2 separate regions of the Homo sapiens genome follow, and region 2 is linked to region 1. Evidence: fine-mapped QTL for protein levels in blood plasma. Region 1 holds a variant in brackets. A gene starts in the other region. All regions are shown on their reverse strands.

The links. PIP is the posterior inclusion probability: the model's chance that the variant is causal. Protein levels are from antibody-based Olink assays in UK Biobank. Linkage for the fine-mapping came from a reference panel and not from the study's own genotypes, which makes the PIPs less certain.
Region 2: it holds the start of FABP9, and the variant in region 1 is fine-mapped to the plasma level of the FABP9 protein (UK Biobank, PIP 0.97).

The regions. Positions count from the first base shown.
Region 1 is chr12:53,822,858-53,831,567 of GRCh38, reverse strand. The region is part of intron 1 of LOC105378250 (a long non-coding RNA gene); the gene reads right to left. Among named protein-coding and RNA genes, the nearest start is that of CISTR, 75 kb to the right of the region's middle. The variant G/A (reference allele first, on the strand shown) is at 3,790.
Region 2 is chr8:81,458,640-81,467,349 of GRCh38, reverse strand. FABP9 (fatty acid binding protein 9) reads left to right here and starts at 5,771. Exons shown (of 4, transcript NM_001080526.2): 1 at 5,771-5,899; 2 at 8,013-8,185; 3 at 8,647-8,710. The coding sequence starts at 5,827. LOC101927118 (a long non-coding RNA gene) reads right to left here and starts at 5,892. Exons shown (of 9, transcript XR_001745980.2): 1 at 5,376-5,892.

The DNA.
Region 1 (8,710 bases):
TACTAGTTAACAGCTGTGTGACCTTGAGCAAGTTATTTGACTTCTTCATAGCTCAGTTTCCTGATCTATAAAGCGGGAATGATAATAGTATCTCCTCATCCAATTGCTGTAAGACCTTAGTTAACACATGAAAGGCTTAGAACAATGCCTGGCACTGGTAGGCATTCAGTGACTACTAGCCATTATTAATATTATCTTTGATGCACTCCTTTATGGTGAAAAGACAGACCTCGAAGTGATAAGTGGGGAGAATATATGTTTGTGTGTGTGTGGTGGAATGGAGAGAAGGGCACTGACAACAGGAGGAATTTTTTTTTTTTTTTGAGACGGAGTCTCGCTCTATCACCAAGCTGGAGTGCAGTGGCGCAATCTCAGCTCACTGCAACCTCTGCCTCCCGGGTTCAAGCAATTCTTCTGCCTCAGCCTCCCAGGTACCTGGGACTACAGGCACATGCCACCATGCCCAGCTAATTTTTGTATTTTTAGTAGAGATGGGGTTTCACCATGTTGGCCAGGATGGTCTCGATCTCTTGACCTCGTGATCCACCCACCTCGGCCTCCCAACGTGCTGGGATTACAGGTGTGGGCCACCGTGCCTGGCCTACTTCTTTAATTAATAATGACTCAATTGTGGGAGCATTCAGCCAAGCTTGGGGTACCCAGAGCTCCAGGACAAGTGACTGGTCATTCATATCATAGATTTATCAACATGTACCATTGGCAGGCCCTCTGCTGGTACTAGAGATATTGTGGTAAACAAGACAGACAAGGCCACAGCCCAGAAGTTAGAGAAGATCTGTAAGGTCCATTAACACTAAAGGAAGTCAGGCCTATCAGCATTATGTTGTTGTGCTTCATTTAGACAAACTAATCGTGGGGCCTTGGAAATTTGGTTTGGCTCTCTCCACAGAGTTTATTAACCTGATAGTTGCTCCAATTCTCTTTCCTTCCACTTCTCATAGGCAGCCAGCTAGAGCAGCTCTGCAGCTCAGTTGGCTGGATCAACTGTGGAGCTGAATGCGATGACCAAGAGCTGGCTATTTTAGAAGCTGAACCCTCAGCTTCACTTTGAGATGGGAAGATCCAGTGGGCCTGTTGTCCACACAGTCCTAGTTTTGGGGAATTGCCTTTCTAAAATGCAGGTCCTATCTTGTTACTCCTCTGTTTAAAAACCTCTAATGGTATACAAGGCCATTTACACTCTAGCCCCAAACTATTTGGCAGTCTCATTACAAATTACCACCCCTCCCTAGCATGCACTCCATATCCTAACTACAAGAGTGGCTGAAAACTGGAGCTCTACTCAGAACTGGGATTCAAACCTAAGCTCTGTTGCTTACTGTATATGTGAAACAGGGCAAGTTACTCAACCTAAGTCTCTGTTTTTGCATATGTTAAATAGTAATAACAAAACAATAATAAAAATAGCTTATTCATATCAGGCACTGTTCTAAGCACTTTGCATCTATTGATCACTTAATTTTCACTACAGAGCAACTACATAGCATTGTTGTGAAGATTAAGTGAATCAACACATGCAAGTTCCTAGAACAGTGTATGATATGAATATGAGCTATTTTTATCATTTTTTAATTATTATTAATATTAACAAAAACAAATAGCCTTTATCATGCCTCCATACCTTTAGTAATATAGTTCCTTCTCCCTGGACATGCTAACTCCCTTCTCTGTGCTGCAAACTCCTAGTGTTCCTCCAAAAGATCCAGCTTTTCAGGCTTCTGTACCCAGAATAAGTCACCTCTTCTATGCATATACTCATAGCACTCTAAATACTCTATACCACACTTATTCTAGTGCACTGAAAATAATGTTTGCAAGCTTACAAACACTTTCCACCACTAGACTGTGAACATCTCAGCAGTAAAAATCCTATCTGGTTTACTCTATATCACTAGGGCTGACTCTAACATATGGAACACAGCAGGTACTAAATGAGTGCTTGTTGAGTTAATAAACGGAGGTCTGACTGAATGAGTAAATGCTTTCAGGAAAGGCCCTAGAACGGAGTTCCAGAGAAAAGCAGGCTTGGGGAGTGAAACAGTCTAGGTATCTTCTGCCCTGCATCTCCCACCTCCTCAGCAGCAAAGCCAGCCACCAGCACATGCTCCCCACCTTCACTAGGCCTGACTGCACCTCCCCACCAAGAACACCCCCCAGTACCCCCTCTTGCTATAGACACTCCACTCACTTCTGCCTCTGGCAGTGACAGAAATGAAGAGGATTACATCATTTGTTACAACAAAATGGTTATTATAGTAATAAGTATAATTAGCATCAGACAATTACAATAATAACACATTTCCTGCTGCAAAGGTACTTTTTTAACAAACAGGTTTATTTAATGCCCCCTACACTCCCCCCTTAAGAAAAAACAACTCTTTTCACGAAGAGCAGAGGCCTCTTTCATTCTGAGATGCTATCTTAATGAAGGAACATTATTGACAAACCCCATAAAATGGGAGCAGATTCCCTTGGAGTAAAATCTCTCTTCCTCTCCCTCTGGTTTCTCTGGGGAAAAGAAAACCTGTGTCTCTCTTTCGAGGGATTAGGAGAACTGGTTGAAGGATAGACAAGATAGGGCCAGGGAGAGGCAAAAAGAAAAATTTTCTTAGACAGCTAGAGCTTAATATCAGTTGTTAACTGTCTCTCATCCTTTCTTCCTGGGTTGGACACACCAGGAAGAGAAAACAAGGCATTCATTCATAGTGGTGAATGAGTGTCTTAGGTATTTTTCCAAGCTGTAAGGGAGCAAGAAGTGCTTAGAGTGAGATGGCACAAAGATCTAGCAGGAGGTCGAAAATGAAAATAAATGAAAAAATAAAGAGGGCACAATCTTACGTCACACAGACATACCTGCATTAGATGCATACACATGCTCATACTCAATCTTTTTAGTTATCTCCTGCTTCTTCCAAAAAATAATTAGGAAGAGATTACAGTGATGACATTTAATAGAGGATTTAAAAATTAGATAGGTAGCCAGGCGCGGTTGCTCACGCCTATAATCCCAGCACTTTGGGAGGCCAAGGCGGGTGGATCATGAGGTCAGGAGTTTGAAAACAGCCTGGCCAACACAGTGAAGCCCCGTTTCTACTGAAAATACAAAAACTTAGCCGAGTGTGGTGGCAGGTGCCTGTAATCCCAGCTACTTGGGAGGCTGAGGCAGGAGAATCTCTTGAACCTGGGAGGCGGAGGTTGCAGTGAGCCAAGATCGTGCCATTGCACTCTAGCCCAGGCGACAGTGCAAGACTCCATCTCAAAAAAAAAAAAAAAAATTAGATAGGTGAGGATATCAGTATACACTTAAGCATTTAATGAACTTGATGGCATATACATAAGGGCATGTGTACCTTCCAAGCATATTTATAGACTTAGGCACACCCCACATACATACATAGGAATATACCCTGCACATAGTAGGCTCTCAATAAACACTTTTTGAATTCAGGAAACAATCCCACCCCTAAATACAAAGAAATATAAAAATAAGTAGTTCAAAAAGATGCAACCTAAGATACAGACATATAAATACATATAAACATTCGCACATAAATATGAATGTGAATATAATATTAATACATGCCTCAAATATATAAACTAGACCACTATCCATATGCACATGTAGTGTACACACCATTTTACACACATACATAAAATTAAACCTCACTTTTTTTTTACCACAGACACAGCCTAGGTAGACATATAAGCACTTTGCAGACCCATATATACATATAAAACATGGTCACATTTTCACATACATGTCCAAGC[G/A]CACACTTACATAAAAACACATTCATACACATAGGTGCATATAGACCCAACACACACACACACACACACACACATACACACACACAATATATATATATATAAATCAAACCAGAATAGCTATAAAGATAAGCATCTCTGCTCATAGTTCTTATCTTCTCTTAGTGACAGTGCTCATAGGCATGGATTTAATCTAGAGCTCTAGCCCATCACACACAATGCAAGAAGAGGCAAGAGGTTTGGGCCACCCACTAGGGAACCTGTCTGTCTCCAAGGCCATCCACATATGCACATGTCTTTTGTAAGCACCCTGGAGCCTTGACCTCACCACAGATGACTGGGAATGAAATATGCACTGACCCACCTTCCTAGGTGCTCCAGGTCAAGCTCCTTTACCTTTATTGACTCCCAGGATCTGGGTTATTCCATCACAATTCCCAGATGAACTTTCTTCAACTCTCTTTGAATTATCAACCAAGTAGTTTGCCCCATAAACCAGGGATACCCCACCTCTCCACACCCACTCCTGTCAGCAGAGAGTATGCTCTCTTCTCTTGATACCAATGCTCCTCTTCCAAGCAGCCTTCTCAGATCTTTCCCTTAAGACATTCAGCTGCATATGGAACAACCATATTTTCTTTCCACAAATATCTTTCCTTTCTTGTAAAATGCATTTACTCCAGCTCTCTTTAGTCACAGATTGGTTTAAAGCTTTATTGTATTATTTGTATATCCTTTACTGGTATGTCAAGATATCCACCTAAGATTTTGTTTCTGGTTCTTAGGAGATTGGGCCTACCTGTGGATGCCTTTGTACAGAACTAGAAGAGGACTGAAGGATAATTTAATTCAGCCTTCTCATTTTCCAGGTAAAGAAATGGAGGTCCATAGAGGAGAAGTGATTTTTCCAGAGTCACAAAACTGAGTGTCAAAGAGGGATGCAAGTTCAGGTTCCTGTCTCTTAATTCAATATTCCTGCTACTACATCAGCATTTCTCAAACTGAATTTAATGGAATGCTAATGTCCCAAGAACGAATAAGAGGTTTTCCTTTAAAAGTGGCTTCCATGGTCTAATAATTTGGAAAATATTGCAAATGATGTCTCCCTCTTGAGATTTCAAATGAATATTAATATGTTAAAGGTTCTGAGAAGCCCTGCTGCTTAAGATTTTAATTTTGTCTCATTCACTGTCTCCTAAAATGACCTGATTCAATGCTTTTTCAAGAAACCCTTATTAACATTAGGTGAAACCTCAGTGCTTTGAGGATTACACAGTTTAGGAAACAGCACTCCCTTAAACACAACAAGGAGGAGGGGCTGAGTTGGGTTCCTTCTTTTTAAAAATCATTGAGAAGGAATAAGCTGAGCACACATACACGCGCAAGAGGCTGCCTCCTCTTCTGTGAGGGAAAATGGGGAGCAGGGCTTGATGAAATCCCAAGAGTAAAAATGATCCACCAAAGGCTTAATGAAAGGAGATGGTTTGGGTTCAGAACTAAGTTCTTCCAATGGTGGTAAGGGAGAGAAAATGTATTGTTATTCTTACAAGATGTCTGGAAAAGGGTACTTCAAACCTTTTAGTTAAAAGATGGAAGCATTGGGCTGGGCGCAATGGCTCACACCTGTATTCCCAGCACTTTGGGAGGCCAAGGGGGGCAATCACCTGAGGTCAGGAGTTCAAGACCAGCCTGGCCAACATGGCAAAACCCCGTCTCTACTAAAAACAAAAATTAACCAGGCATGGTGGCGCACACCTGTAGTCCCACCTATTTGGGAGGCTGAGGCAGGAGAATCACTGGAACCCAGGAGGTGGAGGTTACAGTGAGCCGAGATCGCACCATTGCACTCCAGCCTGGTTGACAGAGCGAGACTCTGTCTCAAATAAATAAATAAATAAATAAGTAAATAAATAAATAAAGATGGAAGCATCAGCATTCTCCATAGCAAAAATCAGTAAGCTCCCATCCTAAGAGAGGAGAGCCTCACATATAGCAGGTGTTCAATAAATATTTGTCAAATGAATGAATCAGTGAAGCAAGCTGATTTGCCTCAAGCAATGGAGAGGGCCCAAGTCAAATGAATTGGAAGTCACTGCTAGTCTTCTGCACCTCCAGGGAGGGTTAACGTTCTATGGGAAGAAAGAGTAGGAATATATGACCAGAGAGCCCTAACCTTTGGCTCTCTAATTTTCCACAGGGCCTGAGGGATTTTTCTGGCAAACCCCAGCAATGGACCTGAGTATAGTTGGTGGAGGGAATGAGTCAGGTTGAGCTGTTTGTTTGTTCTCCAGGGCAGGGTCATGCAAGAGTCAATAAACACACTGGAGCCTCTTTGACTGGAGCTTGGAGCAAGAGATCGGCTTGTTTGTTCTAGAGAATTTGAACTTGGGTCAAAATGGCTCTCAAGGCCTCCCTTCCCCGAGGTAGAGGCCTCCAGGCAGCAACTGAGGTTATCCATTGGGCAGCCAGGTGCTCTACCTAACAATGCATTACACATAGGAAGGTCCCTCCACCAAGCTAGTTTTTTATTTTATAACCTGCAGTGGACACACCAATCTGCCACCTACTAGTTATGGGATGTCTTATTATTTAATACAGGCCACAAAATTGGTAATAGCATCAAGATCAGGCAAGGGCATAACCAAGTTGGTTCATAGGGTTACAGAATCCCAGGACTGGAAATAACCATAAGAAGGAATTTCAAATAGGTGCCAACTGCCTCTAAATGGGATCAGCATTCCCACTACCCCTAAGTTGACAGTCTTCTTTTCTTTCCTGAAATGCAGAGGTCATTTGAACTTTCTCAGACTATCCCAGGTCTAGCTCTAGTCAGGCAGCAGTATAAGCTCCCCGTGTGTGTTCTGAGGGGCCTTCCCCTTAAGAAGTTCCTCATCTAAGTAAATTGACAGAACACAAATATCTAAAAAATGACTTCAGAGGCCGGGCACAGTGGCTCACACCTGTAATCCCAGCACTTTCAGCGGCCAAGACAGGCGGATCACCTGAGGTGGGGAATTCTAGACCAGCCTGAACAACATGGAGAAACCTCGTCTCTACTAAAAATACAAAATTAGCCGGGCATGGTGGTGCATGCCTGTAATCCCAGCTACTCAGGAGACTGAGGCAGGAGAATTGCTTGAACCTGGGAGGAGGAGGTTGCGGTGAGCCGAGATTGCACCATTGCACTCCAGCCTGGGCAACAAGAGTGAAACTCTGTCTCAAAAAAAAAAAAAAAAGACTTCAAAATGCTTATTAAGCAATAAAGCAGCAGCAAGTATAAACCAACAATGGGGCTGAAAAGATGCAGAGTCAAGAAATATTCCAAGTAAGAAGGGGTTATTTTGGGAAGGTTTCCTGCAAGAGGGAGTGTGGAATTGGGTTGGAGAGGAAGCAAGGAGCAGAAGGGAGAGAAAAGTAAAGGCAATCCAGCCTGAGGAGGGGGAGTGCTTACAGGAGGTTTCAGAGGCAGAAAACGTGTGGCATGGACAGGAGGCCAGGGAGGAGCTCAGTTTGCCGAAAATAGACAACAGGAAGGGACAGAAAAGAACCGAGGGGAAGGCGGTTAAGGGGAGCCTTGCAAGTGAGGCTAGAGTTTGTGATGCGCAGTAGCACAGTGCAGTTTCAAAAGTGTGAGTCAAGAGACACGGGTTTCAGCCCTGGATCTGCCACCACCTCATGTACCATAAATCTCAGTCTCCTCATCTGTAAAATAAGGACATTGTATGAGAAGATTAATAAGGTCCCTTGCAGTTCCAAAGCTGCAATGCTGAGGTACAAGAGACAATAAGGACTACCACGGCGGGTCCTCAACAAATCCATTTAATATTTTTTCCCTTATACAAGACAAGTCTAAGTTCCCTTTATCCCTGAGACTGAATTACAACTTGAGCATATTTACTACGTCAAAGATTAATCCTCTAAACCCAGCAAGCTCGCTGGTTGAGCAGCAAGGAAATATCTCTATAAAAAGAATAGACTCTATAAATTATTGGTCACTTACCTAGAGTTGTTACTAAATTATTTTAAAAGGATATATATTCTGCTCCTACACTCTCACTTCTGTCTCTCTCAGACTAATTGCTTCCTGAACTAGGAAGGGTGTCCAAACAGAGACCTAGGAAGTTTGATATATTCCGGATCCTTCAACTGCTGGGATTCCAGATGATAAATAAACTGCGCAGCGGAATTTGTATCAACCTATTCACAGACTTGAAAGGAGTAAGAGGGTAAGTCATTGAAATTATCCTCCTTTTTCCTCTTCCACATTCTGAGCAGCATAACATTTCAACTGGCTTTAATTGAGATAGTGTCAGCTTCTACCCCAGCCTTTAGCATATTGTATTCTCTGTCCACCACTCTAAATAAGAGCTAGCGTAGTGACTGGCACATAGTACTTAGCGTGTGACCATTCTGTGCATGAATGCATAGATTGAGAAATCACAATCTAACTGAGAAGGTCTTCCTAGTGGCTAGCCTTAGTCTGATGCTGTCACAACCACTCTCCCCTGCTGCTGGCTGGGCCCATAAATGACATCTCCCTGCACCAGAGTTAGGTGTCTACTGCTTTATCCCAGTACCCTAGGCACTCCTCTGTCACAGCTCTTCTCATGCTCTATTGTAAATTCTGGTTTACTTCTTTATCTTCCCACCAACCTGAAAGCACCTAAAAGGTAAAGACCTTATCTTCTTCATTTTTGCATCCCTTGTCCAGAATAGTAGCAATAAAAATAAGGCAATTTGTTGAATAAATCAATGAAGCACAACAAGTCATCCTTTCTGTGTTTTGAACAAAGAAAGACTTTTAGAAGAATATCAAAGATCAATTTCTATGATATACATATCCTCATCACATTGTGTCTACTTAGCCACAGAGGATTACAGGCTGGGTGTGGTGGCTCATGCCTATAACTCCAGAACTTCGGGG
Region 2 (8,710 bases), not on the chromosome of region 1:
CATGTCTCTGTTCTCTTCACATTTCTTGCTTCCATCATACCAACATGCATCTTCTTTCTTGCCTCAAGGTTTCTGTTTGTTTTGTACTTTACATTCTGCTTCTTCCTGGGCAGAATTCATTTTTTCCCACTCCCTTCTTCTCAAGCCTTCCTCATCCCTAATGTTGCCTCTGTGCTAATCCTTTACAAAGTCCGTTTATGTAGGTATATTTGTGAATTTAGTCATTTTTGAAAATGTAGTCTTCAAGTCTAATTATTATTTTTCAATTGGTGTGGAATCATAGAATAAGAAGATCCAGTTCAATATAAATTTGATAGATAAGTCAAATTCACGTTCCTATATTTTCACCATAAAACTAAGTCCATAGATACATCCAAGAAAGATCTTCAAGTAACAGCTCCCCAATTTATCCCATTTATCTTGCCTGGGATCTCTGTGAAGCTCATATAATTTTCCACTTTTTGACATTGTTTCTATCAATACATACATAAAGGCATAGAGGACACTGTACTCTGAAAGGAAGAGAGGCAGGATTAAGTGAGTACCTCTCCAAAACCCACAGTGTGGTCATAGAGTCCACCTATATCTTGAAGCAGATATGAATAGTCCAAAAAGCCAGTCACTCCCTCTTTAGAAACACAGGATCAGGTTAAGTAATGAGCTGGCTATCCCCTCTTCCCTAATTCCCACTCTAGCCATCAAAGGGCTACAATTTCTGATTTAGATATACTCCTTTCAAAGTCTGAAGCATTACTGACCTCAGTTTTCATGTAAAAATTACTTGTCAGTTTTCAGCAGATGACCCAGCCTCTTGCTTAGAACAGTGATTTTTTTCCCCAGTGTCTCCAGTACTAAAAGATGAGGAATGACTAAAGATCTGTTCCTGATTGAAGGAGACTAAAGAGACATGATGGCTGAAAGCAACGCATGATCACGGACAGGATTCTGGGTCAGAAAGGCTGGGTTTTTTCCCTTTTTTTTAGTAGGAAAAGGAAAAACTGTCAGGACAATTGGTAAGGTTTGAGTGGGGTCTGTGGATTAGATAGCAGTATTGCCATCAGTGTTGATTTCCTGATTGAGATCCTTGTTTGGAGAGGAGTGGGGCAACATTTCTCAACTTACTCTCAATGACTGAGCAACAAACAGCTTGCTTCTTATGAAGAGAGAGAGGGAGGGAGGGAGGGAGAGAGATAGAGAGAGGTAGGGACAAAAGTGTTGGAATGTTGACAATTGTGAAATCTGGGCAAAGAGTATATATGGGAGTTTTCTGTGTTGTTCGGGAAGTGTTTTTGTAATTATTTCAAATTTAAAAGGTAACCAAAAAAAACCTCAACCAAATAGAATAAAGTTAGGGGAAGAAGGTGGCATGAAACAAGAGAAAATATCAATTGCCAAAAAATGAATTTGCCTAAAAATTCTTTACATGTTAATAAATATGATATGCATAACTCCTTAGAAAGAAATTGCTATTTTTTAGCGAAGACTTGGACTAACCCAAATGCCCATCAATCATAGACTGGATAAAGAAAATGTGGCACATATACACCATGGAATACTATGCAGCCTTAAAAAAGAATGAGTTCATGTCCTTTGCAAGGACATGGATGAAGCTGGAAGCCATCATTCTCAGCAAACTAACACAGGAACAGAAAACCTAACACCACGTGTTCTCACTCATAAGTGGGAGTTGAACAATGAGAACACATGGACACAGGGAGGGGAACATCACACACTGAGGCCTGTCAGGGGGTGGGGGCCAACGGGAGGGAGAGCATCAGGACAAATACCTAATGCATTCAGGGCTTAAAACCTAGATGACAGTTGATAGGTGCAGCAAACCACCATGGTACATGTATACATATGTAACAAACCTGCACATTCTGCACATGTATCCCAGAACTTAACGTAAAATTAAAAATAAAAAAAAAAAGGAACAGTCCTACTACAGGTGAATTTTCAAGGTGGTCAGCCGCCTCCATATGCTCTTAAATAGTGAGCACTTCAAATAAATAACCTTCACCAAAAACAAAAGAAAGAAATTGCTATTTTTATATATACCTATTAAGCAGTAAATAATAGATAAGAGATGGACTTATTTTGTAACTAGTAAAAATAAACTGGAAGTTGTCATATTAAAACAATTACTTGCTCAGAGTTAATTTGGTATGGTTGTTTTAAGTAAAATTTTTATTATAAGTGAAGTGATCCAGAAGTAAAAACAATGTAAAAATTCTCTTATAAGCCCCATATATAAAAAAATTATTGGAAAAAGTGATGTTTTAAAAAAATATATCTTTTATGTTAAGCAAATAGTCTCTTGAAATTATAACATCAATTCCTCTAGTGTAGAAAATACTAGCAAATGGAAGACTATTTCAATGACAAATATCACATTCAGACTATTAACCAAAGTTAATTTCAAAATACTTGTTTTCCTTATTGGATAATATAATATCGTCTTAAAAAGAAAAATTTTAAATAATTACTTTTCAGAGTCCTAGATTAAATGTACACTTTGAAAAGTCATTATATTATTGCATCTTTAAAATTGAAATTGAATGATGAACACAGTAAGGAATATGATACTTAGAGGTGTCACTGCATGTGGAAATAAGAATCTTAGATGCTTTATCAAATCCAGCTAAAGTACTATATGTGCAACAATAAATTATCAGACATATTTCTGAATACTTGTGTAGCTTCCAGTATATGTTTAACTTTACCAGTATCCATCATCAGTGGCAACCATAGCATCTCAAAATTAAAAATTATTCAAAACTACTTGATGTCTTAAAATGTCACAAGAAAATCAATATAGAAAATGAGATGCTGAAAGTTCATAGAAAAATGACATATTGGAGAAATGAGCCTTGAAACTGTCATAAGAACAAGACATGTAACTATTCTATAACAAACTACAGTATTCTAGTTCCTTTACTAGGATTAACATTAGGAACAATCTGATTAAAAATTTTTTTTCTACTTGAGGAAATGGTGTTCACTTTTTTTATATAATCAAACCAAAGTGCCAAAGGCTAGCGGTGGTAGCAACAGAAATAGCAGAGAACTTTCTTAGTTGAGAAGGGAGACTTGTGCTATATAACTGAGAAAGATGAAGAGAGTCTGAGCATCCCTCCACCATCTGATAATGACCAGAATAAAAGGCCTGTCATAGGACCAGGTCAGGAGAAGATAATGTACTAAAACTCTGTCTTTAGTCACTGTTAGAGAGATAAAGAACACTAATGAGAATTACCAGTTAAAAAAAATACTACTTATTTCTTTGGTCACTCATCCATAAAACATTTATTGAACACTTATGATATGCCAGATACTGTCTTAAGGATACAGAAGTGAGTGGAAAATATTTTCTTTTTTTGATATACTCATAGAATAGCTCAGGAGACAGCTGGGAAATAGCTCTTTGCAGTACTATGAAATAAGCTAATATACTTCTCTTAAACATTTATTTCTATCTTCACGCCATGGGGATTATCTAGCTCTGAACCAGTGTCACAGGGAAAGAGATGTTTGAGTTGGTTCAGGAAGATGGGTCTCTGCTGTCATGAGGCCAGCTCTATGTGATTCATGCAACTGGTTGTTGTGAAGGTCCAAATTCACCATTTGGTGAAGCTATTTACAAAGGCGTAGTAATTATGAAGACTTCTTCTACAAGTAACAAAAGCTCAGAGACAAAACTGTTTAAATAAGAATGGAATTTATTAACTAACATAATATAAATTTTTGAAATAAAGTGGCCTTCAGTTCCTTCCACGTTTCTGCTCTGCTATCCTCAGTTCTGGCCCCATCTTTGAGGAGGTAACACAATGGATGCAGCACTTGTAAATATCACGTGAGATAGAAAAATGTGTAGAGGCAAAAGAGAGACTGTCTCTCCCTTTGGTTCTCTCCTAGGGGTGGGGAATTTTACAGAAGCCAGAATTTTTATTTTATTTTATTTTAAGTTCTGGGATACATGTGCAGAACGTACAGGTTTGTTATATAAGTAAATGTGTGCCATGGTGGTTTGCTGCACCTATCAACCCATCACGTAGGTATTAAGCCCCACATGCATTAGCTATTTATCCTGATGCTCTCCCTCCCCCCATAGCCCTGGCCCCAACAGGCTCCAGTGTGCATTGTTCTCCTCCTTGTGTCCATGTGTTCTTACTGTTCAGCTCCCACTTATAAGTGAGAACATGAGGTGTTTTTCTCTTCCTGCGTTAGTTTGCTGAGGATAATTGAAACCAGAAATCTGATGTTAGCTTTTGTCTCATGGGCCAACTGAGTTCTAAACGGACCACAGGAATATCATTCTATGACAGGAGAATCAAAACAACAAGGAAGATTATGCTGATGGGAGACCTTTGCTACACTACCCAGCTGGCCAACAGGCATAGCAATGTATGCTTGCTTTCTTTAAAGCAGAGAGTGCATACACATCTCGAACCAGTTAAGCAAACGTTTAACAACTTGCTCTATATTTGAACATCACCTCTGAATGCACTTTCAACTGCTGAGGCACTTATTTTGAGCTTGGGTCTTAGTTTCCTGAAATTAACTCCAGGATTTTCACTTACCCTGTTTTGCACTGTAGATAATTTAATAATTGTCCCACCCATAAAGATATCACATTATATGTTTCTTCTTTATATGTTTTCATCAAAAGCCATCCTTTATTCCACTTAAGTTATTGTTTTACAGTACCAAAATATCAACCTCCTGTTTATTTTGTTCACAAACAATATTTTCTGAATTAAATAAATACTTCATACAAAGCAGGTAAAAATATAAATATTCTTCTTCTGGTCCCTGACACTAACTTTCCAACATCTTCTAAAGTTAACTGGAGTTCAAAACCGTAATGTAAATCAACAGCTACTGAATCTACTCCTTCTTACTAAACTCAGTACCTGCAAAGTCCACTTCCATTATTGGGGTTGCAGAAGATGGTTTCAGAAGTAATGGCACAGAGATTGAAACCATTTGCTGCCTTTGTCTTTCTTTTAGAATGCAGATTCCAAACATCTTTTTCTATATGAAACTTGCCAAAATTTTTTCTTATAATTTAAAATATCTTTTAATGTAGAGTTTACTTTGTAAGCCTGAAAGACGAATTTTGTAGGCATTCGCTCTGCTTCCTTTTCAGAGCTTAAATCATATACTATTATCCAATGATAATTGTCACCTTTCTTTCCTGTCCTCAATTACCTTCGATTAACAACAATGATAATATATTAATAATACCCTCCATTTCCCTCCAAGCAATTATAGGCATTTTAGTTACATTAACTAATATCAACCCATCAACCCTGTAAGGAAGGGAAGGGAAGATATTATTTTAATGAAGAGGATGTTTGAGCACTGTGACTTACCCAAACAAAAAACAGCTGAGGTGGACCAAGCAAGGATTTCTTGTCTTAGGTAGGAAAACATCTCAGCCAGGTGTTTATCAATTTGTCAGGATATTCCTCCAGGGTTGACTCAGTATTCATTGTTCAAAAAGCTGATGTCTATTGAAGATTGTCTCCGTTCCACAAGTAATATTTGTCAGGTGACTTGGGTGTAAATCTTTTTGCTAGAAGCTAAAATCATTGACCAGAATTTAATTTTACATGCTAATTTTCTGTCTCTTAATTTGGAGGTAAATAAAATGAGTCAAATGCTGGTGCCTAGAATCTTTAGTCTTGCTGCTGTTGCCCATTGGCCATTTCAGAAGAGTCACGTGATGAAGACGCTCTTTAAATTAAACTACTGGCAGCACCGTAATGCCTATATTTCTTTGGTTTTCAATTACGAGTGGCTCTTCTCAGCAAGTGTTCCATGATGGTTGAGCCCTTCTTGGGAACCTGGAAGCTGGTCTCCAGTGAAAACTTTGAGGATTACATGAAAGAACTGGGTGAGAAATACCATTACAAATTTGGAAATTGGCAAAGCATTTTGTGATGTGATTGGGTTTGTACTTTACCATGAATTTTCCTACAATTATCTTCCTTTTGTGATCCTAGGGTATATAGACTAACACAATGTATGCTTCTACTTTTGCTTTTTTAAATTACTAGTAATAATTGTCTCTTTTTGGAAGACTAGGCCCACAGACACCTCTGTCCAGTCATGATCCATATATTTAAGCCCATTTATCCTTTTTGAAAATACTTCACCTAACTTCTAGATAGAATTTCATTTTAGCTTGGTCATTTCATTTAATAACATTTTTCCCAGCTTCAAATTTATAGACAGTAATCACTACCTACAATTAAATTGATCAATTAAATTTGTTTCAAGGTTTAAGTTATAGCTTTAAAACAGCAGTATCAACTAACAAAATTTCTAGTTGGTTAATTTTTAGAGTTCTCATAAATGTGAGAGATATTTTATAAACATGGTTTTGAAGAATTACAAATCTGAAGAAACACAACATTTTTACTCATTGAATGTCTCACCACTGGATATTCCTCAGAATTATAAACCCTACCAATCCTTTAATCTCTAACTCAAGTCATTTAGTTACACATTAATTATAATGACTTGGGTGTATAATAGCTAAACTGTTCTTTACTAATGGAAGAACAGCAATTATTTCATATTTTTCATATTTAATTAAGAGAAACCTCCCTTGTAGTAAACTGTATACAAAGCCAAGGACTTTCTTATCTTTACTTTTTTTTAACTTACATAACATGCTTAATGGATGCTTACAATTATTAATTATGTTTACTCATTCTAGACAATGAAATAACAATGCCTTATCCCCATAATAAGTCAATGTGCTTATAAATGTAATATTTGTTCCTCTGATGTAGTCAATATTCACTTTCTCAGAGGGTCATAAGAAACAAGTTTTTCTGTCTCTTCATAGATTTATAGACTCACTTGTTTTGAATAAAAATTGGGGGGGTATATAAAAAACTTGGGCCTTATGGCCAGAGTAGCACTTGTGTTGACTGGGAGCTGGGTTTAGGCATAATACAAGCAAGAATAACAGCTGAGCAGTTTCTATGTGCCAGTACCATGCTAACCCCTTTCATTTAACCTTTTAAAACATCCGCTGGCTGGGTACAGTGGCTCAGGCCTCCAATCCCAGCACTTTGGGAGGCCAAGGCAGGTGGATCACCTGAGGTCAGGAGTTCGAGATCAGCCTGGCCAACATGGTGAAACCCCATCTCTACTAAAAATACAAAAATTAGCTGGGCATGGTGGCATGTGCCTGTAATCCCAGCTACTCGGGGGGCTGAGGCAGGAGAATCGCTTGAACTTGGGAGGCAGAGGTTGCAGTGAGCTGAGATTGTGCCACTGCACTCCAGCCTGGGCAACATAGCGAGACTCTGTCTCAAAACAAAAAACAAACAAACAAACAAACAAAAAAAAAACTTGCGAGGTCAAGTATACAGTTATCCACACTTTACTATTGAGAAAACTGAAGGTTAGGAGAGGTAAATAATATGCCCAAGCTAGCAAGTGGCCAAGTTAGAGCCTGGGTTTTAACCATCTCACTCTTCTTTGTGATGCAGATGTCTAACACTGCTTCTCTACAGTAAGATGTGTCATATCAGTTCCACAATCTAAATGTGAAATGGAGTTTGATATCAGGACAGAGAAGGAGTCAGCTCTTCTGCCCACCAACTGCAGGAGTCAAGTTTGACAATGGGAAATTCCCAACCAAACCACAGGGCCAGGCTCTAAGTCAAACTCCTCCCGCACCCACAAGGTTATCGTAACACTCCACAAGGTGAAGTGCAAGCATTTGATCTCTTGAAAGGCACCATACAAATTTACATTTTAGAGGAAGTGTAATAGTCTCAGAGAGTGAATTTAGCTTTTCAAAATGTCACATATATACCTTATGACTGGGAGGATCTAGCTCAGCCCTGATATCACAGAAAACATAAAATAAGTTACTATACATTATCCAAAATTTCAAAATAGGTAAAGTAAGCATTCTTTGAAAATTGACTTCCAGAGTGATTGTTAACAATGTCTTAATAAGGTCCAAGGCTATCTCTGTCTTGTAGGAGTGAATTTCGCAGCCCGGAACATGGCAGGGTTAGTGAAACCGACAGTAACTATTAGTGTTGATGGGAAAATGATGACCATAAGAACAGAAAGTTCTTTCCAGGACACTAAGATCTCCTTCAAGCTGGGGGAAGAATTTGATGAAACTACAGCAGACAACCGGAAAGTAAAGGTCAGAACTAATTCTTCCTGGTGTTCAACAATCAGGAAAAAGTTAGAAGGTGGTTAGGCATGGTTTACTGTAATTTGATTTATCACCAAGTCTGTCTGGGCTTGTTCTGTTAATAGTCGCACATCTCTAAAGTTAATCCTTTTGCTAATTATTTTGATGGTTAACAATAGGGCTAAAAGATTCAAATTGTTTTCATTTCATTTTTTCTTATCTCTTTGTCATATGAAAGAGCACATAGAAAGAAACAACTAAACACAAATAGCTTATGCATTGTTTGCCTAGGAAAGAGCACTAATTGAATAATCTCTTGAGACTTCTAGTTTGATAGTACTACATCATGACAACAAAAGTGAGGATTTTAAGAAAAGAATTTCAAAATAGAAATTAAAAAGTAGATATGTGGTCTCATGTAGGTTAGAAGGTAGTGAGTTGCTACTTCTGATTTCTTTATGCATTTATAGAGCACCATAACATTAGAGAATGGCTCAATGATTCACGTCCAAAAATGGCTTGGCAAAGAGACAA